2 separate regions of the Homo sapiens genome follow, and region 1 is linked to region 2. The links come from fine-mapping of genetic effects on gene expression. A gene starts in region 2. The other region holds a variant in brackets. All regions are shown on one strand. Distances are between the middles of the regions.

Region 1 (5,533 bases), 61 kb before region 2:
CAGGAGGCTGAGGTGGGAGAATTGCCTGAGCCCAAGAGGTTGATGCTGCAGTGAGCCGTGATCACACCACTGCACTCCAGCCTGGGCATCACAGCAAGACCCTATCTCAAAAAAAAAAAAAAAAAAGAAAGAAAAAAGAAAAGAAATCATTATATAAAAAAGACACCTGCACTTGTATGATTATGACAGCACTATACACAATAGCAAAGTCATGGAATTAACTTAAGTGTCCTTCAGTGGATGACTGGATAAAATGTGATTGATATATAATCACACCATGGAACACTACTTGCCCATACAAAATAATAAAATCGTGTCTTGTACAGCAACATGGATGGAACTGGAGGCCATTATCCTTAGTGAAATGATGCAGAAACAGAAAGTAAAAAAGACACACATGTTCTCACTTGTAAGCGAGAGCTAAACAATGGGTACACATGGACATACAGAGTGGAATAACAGACACTGGAGACTCCAAGAGGTGGGAGAGTGAGAAGAGGTGAGAGATAAAATACTATTTGTACAGCATTAGAGTGACAGGTACACTAAAAGCTCAGACTTTACCGCTATGCAATACATACACGTTATACAACTGTGCTTGTGGCCCTAAATCCATAAAAAAAAAAAAAAAAACTGAAGAAAAGAAAAGTACTCTACTAACACCAAACAACCAGGATTCAAACTCAAGTCTTCTCATTTCAATCTTAAACAAAATGTTATGCTAACTCTACTTATAGCACAAAAGTTTGTCTTTAATTAGCAATTACTGATTCTTTACTGATTAAGTTTCTAAATAAGTGAATCAATTTCTGAGAAATACCTGGTACTTGACGCATAATAGGAAAAAGTGAATATTTCTCATTCATTCCACAAATATTTCCTGAATATCTACTAGGTAAGCCAGGCATTGTTCTAGGCCAGGGGTGAATGAAACAGAAAGTCCTTGCTCTATGAGTTTAGATTTCTTTCCTGAAATGTTTATAGATCATAAGCACGTAAAATATAGGCAAATCTTCTGACATTTAGAAAATATTATCTGAACCAACATTTTAAGTTTAGTTCATTTGTGAACTATATAACTGAACTCCTGAATGCCTCAGTGAAATTCCTCAATTTCTTCACAAGGGACTGTGTTCTAGCCAGTCCAGTTGAAATACATGCCTTTCGCTCCAAAAGGGACTGGGAGAATTAATCTGTTCAAGTCATTCCTTAGGACTGGGAATCATCTTAAAGCTATTCAACTTTTATGGAGTACTTAGGAGCTGCATACTAACTGTAAAACATAAAGAATAAGGGGGAAATGTTAAGTGTGCTCCTGAAGAAAGTACACTGATACAGAAAGAACTAGGACAGCCTTGAGAATCACCCCTGTTAATTTAAACCGGTTTGCTAATACTTTCTTCAAGACCTGGCTAAACGCATCCTCTGTAAGCCAGCACTGAACTCTTTAGGTACAGTTCGTGGGTCTTTGCTCTATGTGAATCCATAGCAGTTTGTGATGGCAAATAATTTGATTAGCAACATGTCTGTGTGCATCTTTAGGCAAGTACTAAGTGGTCAAAAAGGTTACATGAATGTGCTTTCCTATTTTAAGACAAATCCTCTCTAGTTCTAAATGATGCTGTAAAGATCAGCAAAATAGTGCTAAGGAAATTAAAGATCAGAAAAATTAAGCCTATGCTTTTTACCTTTAAAGACATGGATCCAGCTAGAAAAAAGTGGTCTACATCAATAACAGAGGCTAAAAATCCAGCTAAAATGATTTCTCCAAAGTCAGTCTTCTTCTTGATTCCAGTGACTACCGCCCATGACCACATGCCAATTACACAATGTACTGCATTATCTGAGAGAGCACGAAGCCAGTCATTTTGCTGAATTGTGGAAAACTGAAGAAGTCTGTCAGCTACGAGGCAAAATGCCCCCAGACCAAGGCTGGAAATAAGAGATTCAGTGCTACAAGTCTGCAGTAAAGCATGGGTCTTTTCAGTCTCGGATGCCATGACAAACAATATGTTAGTATAGACTAAAAGCCATCAGGAATGAACAGTCTATTCTTGTTTACATTTCCAGCACCCTAAAGGAGAAAGTAGAGAAAAATATGAATGAAGATTATGGACTACCATATAATATTTAAACAAAACAGTATCAGCAATAATTTCACAAACATAAAACCAAGATGTAAATACTGGCAACTTTTACATGTTATATATAATATGTCACATAGCCCAAGGAGAATAG[ATT/A]TTTTTTTTTTTTTTTTTTTTAGGAAGAGCAGGGTACATGGTATGTATCAAGGAGAATTTCAGAAAGCCCACCAACTGCAATCTATTGCTTTAAGGTCATCAAATAGATCTATCTCCCAGCTGTGTGTAGTACATGGTGGTGAATATCCGTTGGGTTTGTGTACCCAACAACTACTTTCCATACTTCTGACAACAGTAATCCCTTCCTTTGGGAAAACTTTCTCACATTAAACTCCAGAGCTCACCAATTAGAGTTTTCCATTTCCCTAATAATGGTGACTAATCTAGTAATGAAAGTGGTCCAGGCTGAGCCAATCAGATTCCTTTCCAAAATTTGTCTTGTGGTAGAGAAAGTTCCTCTTCTTGGAGGCCATGGGCTCCACTACACGAAATAGCCTAGGAAAATAAAATCCCAGAGAGACACAAAGGAGAAAGGCTAATAGAATCATGATGACAGTGAGTACTTATGTCCAACGTCTAAAGGTTCTCAGAGCTACCCTAGATCTTGCAGCTCCCCCTCCACTTCAATGAGCTACCCCAACATTTTCCCATCAAATCCCCTTTACATTTCTGATGCCTTGAACCAAATAACCTTAATTGATATAAAAATGCAATCATAATTCTATGCTGAGTTCTCACATGGCACAGAATATTGACATTATTTACCTAGCTAGAAAATATTTGTCTACCTAAAGTGTGACACATGAAGTTTTTTCTTTTACATTGTTTTGTTTTAATCCTGAGACTAAAGAATAACTGATTTATTGATAATGACTCAACTTCTATTACACAATAAAAGCTATACATAGCTCATTATATATATTCTAAAACTGCAGAGGACCTAGAAGAATAAAACAATTTTGAAAAACAGAAACTAAGTTGGAGGACTACTTATGCCATCTTATTTTAAGTTTCATTATAAAGCTACAGTAGGCTGGGCACAGTGGCTTACACCTGTAATCCCAACACTTTAGGAGGCTGAGGCAGGAGGATTGCTTGAGGACAGGAGCTCGAGACCAACCTGGGCAACATAGTGAGACACTGTCTCTACAAATAATAAAAAATTAGCTAGGCGTGGTGGTGCATGCCTGTAGTCCCAGCTACTTGAGAGGCTGAGGTGGGAGGATCGCTTAAGCCCCGGAGGTTGAGGCTGCAGTGGGCTGTAATCGTGCTACTGCATGCCAGCCTGGGCAACACAGAGACCCTGTCTTAAAAAAAAAAAAGCTACAGTAATCAAAACAGTGTAGTATTGGTATAATGACAGACATACAGACTAACAAAACAGAATACAGAGTGGGATCAGAAATAGAACCAAACATACCTAGTCAATTTTATTTATTTATGTATTTATTTTTTGAGATGGAGTCTCACTCTGTCACCCAGGCTGGAGTGCAGTGGTGTGATCTTGGCTCGCTGCAACCTCTGCCTCCTGGGTTCAAGCAATTCTCCTGCCTCAGCCTCTCAAGTAGCTGGGATTACAGGTGCCCGCCACCATGCCTGGCTAATTTTTTTGTTTGTATTTTTAGTAGAGATGGGTTTCACCATGTTGGCCAGGCTGGTTTCGAACTTCTGACCTCAAGTGATCCACCCACCTCAGCCTCCCAAAGAGCTGGGATAATAGGCGTGAGCCATCGTGCCCAGCCAATTTTTTTTTATTTAAGACAGAGTTTTACTGGAGTGTAGTGGCACAGTTATGGCTCACTACACCCTTTACCTCCCACGTTTAAGAAGTTCTCCTACCTCAGTCTCTTGAGTAGCTGGAGCCACAGATGTGTGTCACCATGCCTTTTTTTTTTTTCAAAGAGACAAGGTCTCCCTGTCTCTAGAGAGGCCTCGAACTCCTAGCTGGTCTCGAACTCCTGGCCTCAAGTGATCCTTGGCTTCCCAAAGTGCTGAGATTACAGGCATGAGCCATCATGCCCAGCCTGGTCAATTAATTTTTGATAAAGGTGCAAAGATAAATCAATGGAGGAAGAATATTCTTTTCAACAAATGGTGTGAGAACAAATGGATATCCATATGCAAAAATCATAAACCTGAATCTATATCTTACTCCATATACAAAAATTATCTCAAAATGAATCACAAACCTAAATGTAAATAAAACATAAAAAGATAAAATTTCTGGAAAAAAACATAAAGTATTTTTGTGTCCTTGGGTCACGCAAAGAGTTATTAGATAAAATACCAAAAGCTTGATCCATTAAAAAATTGGTAAGTTGAACTTATCAAAATTAAAAGCTTCTGATCTTTGAAAGACAATGTTAAGAGAAAGAAAAAACAATTTTTAAATCTTATATCTGATAAAGGACTTACATCCAGAATATATAAAGAACTCTCAAAACAGAGTAATAGGAAAACAAACCAATACAAAAATGGACAAAAGATGTGAAAATGGGTACCTACCATTGATGATATTCAGATAGCCAATAAGTATAAGAAATATGTTCATCACCATTAATTATTAGGGAAATGCAAATTTTAAAAATTAGATATCACACACCTGTTAAATGGCTAAAATTAAAGACTGACAATCCCAGATGTTGACAAAGATGTGGAGCAACCAGAACTCATACGCTGCTGGTCGGAATAAAAAACAGTATGACTATTTTGGAAAAACAGTTTTCCAATTTCTCAGAAAGTTAAACGTACTCTTACCATATAACCCAGTCATTCCACTTCTAGGTATTTTCCCAAAAGCTTATGTGTACACAAAGGCTTACACATGAATGTTCATAGCAGCTTTATCTGAATTTGTTCCAAGTTGGAAACAACTCAAATGTCCACAAACATGTGAATAAACAAAAGGTGGAATAAAAAGGAACAAACATGTGATACACATAAAAACATGAATGAATCTTGAAATGATTATAGTAAGTGAAAGAAGTCAAACAAACAAAAATTACACAGTTAAAACCCATAGAACTGTGCGACATAAAGGATGAACCCTAATATAAAGTATGGACTTTAGTCAAAAATAACATATCAATATTGGTTCCCTACTTGTATCAAATATACCACACTATTGCAAATATTAATAATGGGGAAAATGTATGCAGGGCAAAGGGCATCTATAAGAATTCTCTATAATATTGGCTCAATTTTTCTGTAAACCTAAAACTACTATTTAGGTTTATGTATTAGTCTGTTATTGCATGGAACTACCTGAAACTGGGTAATTTACAATGAAAAGAAGCTTAATTGGCTTACAGTTCTGCAGGCTGTACAGGAAGCATGGCTGAGGAAACCTCAGGAAACTTACAATCATGGTGGAAGGTAAAGAGGAAGGAGTC
Region 2 (5,000 bases):
ATATCATCTGTAATCTTCTGAGGATATGTCAGGATATAAGTAAATATTTAACCACATGGTCTCTCCTGAGGAGATTCACACACTTTTAATTATTTTCTTTCTCTAGAGAACTAAATGTACCTGACCTCTCACAGAGCTTTCAGGTGGCTGCCTGCTAGACCGCTCTCTATGTCCCTGTCCCATAGATAAATCAAACTCAACATAACTAAAATGGAACTTAATCACTCCTACCAAAAGCAGGCTTCTGTAATACCCCCTAATTGCACTTTCACTCTCATCTCTTCCCTCAAATCCAGTCTGCATACAGTAGTGCCCAGAGGGATCTTTTAAAATGAAAATCACATCTATCACTTCGTGGCTTAAAACCCACCAGTACCTTCCATTTCTACTTAAAATCCAAACTCCTAAACTATGGCCTACAAAGGCCACACAGTCTGGTCCTATCTACCTCTCCCAATGTCATTTCTCAACTCTCTCCTACTTCTACAGGGCACTTTAGATACATTGGCATTTTAAATGTTCTTTAAACAAGCTCTTTCCCATCTTTGCAGTTCTTTCTGCCTGCCTTGTCTTTTCCTTGGCTAATCACAAGGCTGGTTCTTTATCATCATCAAGGTTTCAGCACAAATGTAACTCCTACAAGGGCCCAACGACCAACTAAGTTAAAGTTACTCCCAAACATCTCCCAATCATTTGTCATCCCTCTTCAAGTTTTTTCTTCATAGAATCTATCATCAAAATTGATTATTTACTTGCTTTTTATTTTCTCCCACTAGGATATAAAGTCAACCGAAGCAGGGGCCTTATCTGTCTTATATGTAACAGTATCTCTGGCATCTAAAACAGTATTAGGCAAATAGTAAATGGCACAATAAATATTTGAATGATGAAAAATAAGTAAACTGCTCCTCTTGAATTTGCAATTTGAATTAATGGTGTCTCATTGTTAGCAGCCAATATTCTAAAACTTGACTTTCCACTCCATGCCCCTGTAACAAGTCCTGTTGATTTTCTGTCTTTGGAACCTGACTCTCTCTACCTCTTTCTCTTTTTCAGGCCATAGACTCTCCAACTCCTGCAACTGTCTGGAATTTCTTCTCTCTCCAATCCATCTCTAGTATTGATGACATAGGTAACTTTCCACAAGTCACACCATACCAAGTGCTTTACATCACCTGTTTACGTACTTATCAAATGGCAATATAGATTACAGATATATATATAAACACACACGTATATATCGGGTATGTCTACTTGGTATTTTAGGGGAAAAAACGGGTGCTGATACATAGATGGAAGACATTTTCTGATTCCAATTTGGGAAAAATAGTCTATCTTTGGTCAGGTCTTTTTTTTAATAGCTTTACTGAGGCGGTTTTCTAATTTTAAATAATCAAGCATACACAACAAACAGTGTAATGACTAAGGTTCTTGGCATACCATAGGAAACCATAACCCGGCTCCAACCCACACTGCCATTCTCATCTCTACAGTCTCATTCCCGCTTGCGTTCTCATCACCCAGCACATTACGTCAGGGTATGTTTAACACTCAAAAATCCACAAGTCTGTTCTTGACATGAATGAGAATCTCATTTCTTTCAAAATGCTATAGTCTCTAGTTACAGAAGGAGCCTGATCAAAACAACCACCAAAAGTCTTCCACTCACAGCAGTTCGGAGCCGAAAAGTTGCGGAAATGAGGCCCAGCAACGGTCCCTGGCTTTGATTTGCCAAAATGCTCTGGAAGCCGCAGCGTCGGCGCCTGCCCACCACTGCTTCTTCAGGGGTTTCTTCAGTTTGACAAATTACCAGCGAGTGATATTTCTTGGTGAAAGAAAAAAATCACAACCCTAGAGGAATAAGGTGGCAGGGAGAGTGTTTTGGCCAAGATGCCCGCCACGAAACAGGAAAGCGGAGACAGCGCCAACTGTAACCACTAAGAGAAAGCGCAAACCGCACAAGACCAGTTCAAAACCAGCGCCCTCAGGGAGCCGCTTCAGAGCTCCGCAACAGGGAAGACAGGAAGTCCCGCCCCTCCACAACAGGAAGGGCCGGAAGTCCCGCCCCTCCACTCCGGAGGCTGCCCTCGCTGCGTTCCCTACGAAGGGCGGAGCAGGAATTGGTGTAGGAAGGGGACGGGTGTTTCCTTGTTCGGAATGGGGTTGGCTCCTCTTTGATTTTTTACTTCTGGTGACCCACGCAAAAGCAGTCCCGACCTGGTTGTATTAATAATAAAGGCTGTAAGGATCAGCCTTTTGAACGGTCCAGCCGAGAACTAACCACAGAGCGCGTTTTAGTGGAGTGGTACTTATTTTTAAATAAGGTAAAAAACGATTATACTTCAGTAAAGCTGTTTAGAAAAAAAAAAACTTGGCCAAAGATGGAGAACTCTTCCTAATTTGGTATCAGAAAATAGGTCGTCTATGTATCTGCACCTTTTTTCCTTATAAAGTGGCAAATAAATGTGTCTGCTATATTTATTGCCACTAAACAAGTGTTTATGGAACACTCACTGTGTGTTTAGGCATAGTGGGGATAAAGCAGGGAAGGTGGCCCAGTTCTTTGCGGGTGAGGATCAGAGCTAGAGATTAACTGGAAAGAAAGAATAAACAATCATTTATTACAGTTGTGAGTGTTTCTAAGATAAAATACAGAGGTTTGTGAGAGCATAGAGAGGCATACCTTGTTTTATTGTGCATTTTATTGTGCTTTGCAGATACTGAGTTTACTACAAATGGAAGGTTTGAGGCAACCTTGATGGAGCAAGTGTATGGGTGCCATGTTTTTCCAACATCATGTGCTCACTTTGTGTCTCTGACATATTTTGGTAATTCCCACAATATTTCAAACTTTTTCATTATTTTTGTATCTGTTAGAGTGATCTGTGTGATCACTGATCTTTGATGTCACTACTGTAATTGTTTTGGGGGACCACAGATCATGCTCATACATTATAAAATGGCGAACTGAATCTGTTACAGGTAGTTAGGCATGAGCAAGGCAGGAGAGGGCTCTCCCCTGCCACCCACCCACTAGAAATGTTGGGTGATGGTTCAGCAATTATCACATGGCCTCTCTAAAAATGAAAATTTGGCAGCGCCAGGGAAAGGCCATTTCCTGATGGCCCACACCTGTTAACATCAAAATGTTAATTGAATGCAGGCCCCAGAGAGAAGCAACTTCCTGGGCATGCCGGTTAAGAGACAAAAGTGATGAAGTATGATTTTTCTGATACACTCCACCGGAAAAAGGAAGAAAGCCTCAGATGGGCATGTGTATAAATCCATAAAATCACTGTGTGTGCTCACTTCCCAAGGGTAAAGAGGGCTCTGAGCATGCAGGGAGCCCATCCTAAGATCATGGTTAAATGCGGCACTTGACCTTCTCTCTCTCTCTCTCCTTTTCTTTTTCTTTTTTTTTTGAGACGGAGTCTCACTCTGTCGCCCAGGCTGCAGTGCAGTGGCGCGATTTCAGCTCACTGCAATCTCCGCCTCCCGGGTTCAAGCAATTCTCTGCCTCAGCCCCCTCCCCGAGTAGCTGGGATTACAGGCGCCCACCACCATACCCGGCTAATTTTTTTGTATTTTTAGTAGAGACAGGGTTTCACCATCTTGGCCAGGCTGGTCTTGAACTCCTGACCTCATGATCCACCTGCTTCAGCCTCCCAAAGTTCTGGGATTATAGGCGTGAGCCACTGCACCCGGCTGGCCTTCTCTCTTTAACCTTCACATGCCCACTTGGGTCTCTTCCATGCGTACCTTCCTTTCTTTCCTGTTCTAATGCCTGTTTAAATAAACCTCCATTCCTACTCTGGAACTTGCTTCAGTCTCTTTTCTGCTTTATGTCTGTCAGTCAAATTCTTTCTTCTCTGAGGAGGCCAGGACTGAAGTTGCTATGGACCTGCAAGGATAGGCTGCTGGTAACTTGGGGTAACTCAGATCTCTTCCACTAGTAACAAGTCGATTGATATATATTGTGTGTGTCTGGCTGCTGTATTCACTGGCCACTCTCATCTCTCACCCTCTCCTAGAGCCTTCCTATTCCTTGAGACACAACAATATCAAAATTAGGCAAAGTAATACCCCTACAGTGGCTTCTAAGTGTCCAAGTAAAAGAGGGTTGTATGTCTCTCACTTTAAATCATAACCTAGAAATGCATGATTAAGCCTGTAAGGAAGGCATGTTGAAAGCTAAGATAGGCTGAAAGCTAAGCCTCTTGTGTCAAACAGCCAAGTTGTGAATACAAAGAAAAAATTCTTAAAGGAAATTAAAAGTACTACTCCAGTGAACACATGAATAATAAGAAAAACCAAAACAGCCTTATTACTGACAGGGAGGAAGTTTGAATGGTCTGGATAGAAGATCAAACCAGCTACAACATTCCCTTAAACCAAAGCCTAATCCAGAACAAAGCCCTAACTCTCTTCGATTCTATGAAGGCTGAGAAAGGTGAGGGAGTTGAAGAAAAGTTTAAAGCTATCAGTAGTTGGTTCATGAAATTTAAGGAAAGAAGCCATCTCTGTAACATAAAAGGGCAAGGTGAAGCCACAAGTGCTGATGTAGAAGCTGCAGCAAGTTATCCAGAAGATCTAACGAAGACCATTGATGAAGGTGGCCAAATTAAACAGCGGATTTTTAATGTAGATGCAACAGCCTTCTAGTGGAAGATGTCATCCAGGACTTTCATAGCCAGAGAGAAATTAATGCCTGGTTTCAAAGCTTCAAAGGACAGGCTGATTGTCTTGTGAAGGTCTAATGCAGCTGGTGACTTGAAGTTGAAACCAATGCTCATTTCTCATTTCAAAATCCTAGGGCCCTTAAGAATTATGTTAAATCTACTCTGCCTGCACTCCAGAAACAACAGAGCCTGGATGACAGCACATCTGTTTAGAGTATGATTTACTGAATATTTTAAGCCCACTGTTGAAAATGACATTCAGAAAAATAGATTTCTTTTAAAATATTGCTACTTATTGACAATGCACCTGGTCACCTAAGA

Which allele goes with the higher level. Positions count from the first base shown, and alleles are read on the strand shown. Sizes are in standard deviations (SD) of each study's normalised expression.
In carriers of allele A in region 1, the expression in CD4 T cells of the gene that starts at base 2,012 in region 2 tends to be lower than with ATT alone (moderate effect, 0.73 SD a copy in BLUEPRINT).

Evidence for each region. PIP is the estimated chance that this variant, and not a neighbour inherited with it, causes the effect. A credible set is the group of variants that fine-mapping cannot tell apart.
Region 1: its variant is the best candidate, but not a certain one, in a credible set for the expression of C5orf34 in CD4 T cells (BLUEPRINT, PIP 0.73).

Annotation. Positions count from the first base shown.
Region 1 is chr5:43,451,970-43,457,502 of GRCh38, forward strand. It overlaps TMEM267 (transmembrane protein 267), which reads right to left. Exons shown (of 3, transcript NM_022483.5): 2 at 1,689-2,074. The coding sequence starts at 2,000. Among named protein-coding and RNA genes, the nearest start is that of TMEM267, 29 kb to the right of the region's middle. The variant ATT/A (reference allele first, on the strand shown) is at 2,239.
Region 2 is chr5:43,513,137-43,518,136 of GRCh38, forward strand. C5orf34 (chromosome 5 open reading frame 34) reads right to left here and starts at 2,012. Exons shown (of 13, transcript NM_198566.4): 1 at 1,670-2,012. LOC124900190 (a long non-coding RNA gene) reads left to right here. Exons shown (of 3, transcript XR_007058764.1): 2 at 1,057-5,000. RefSeq lists an enhancer at 1,620-1,779.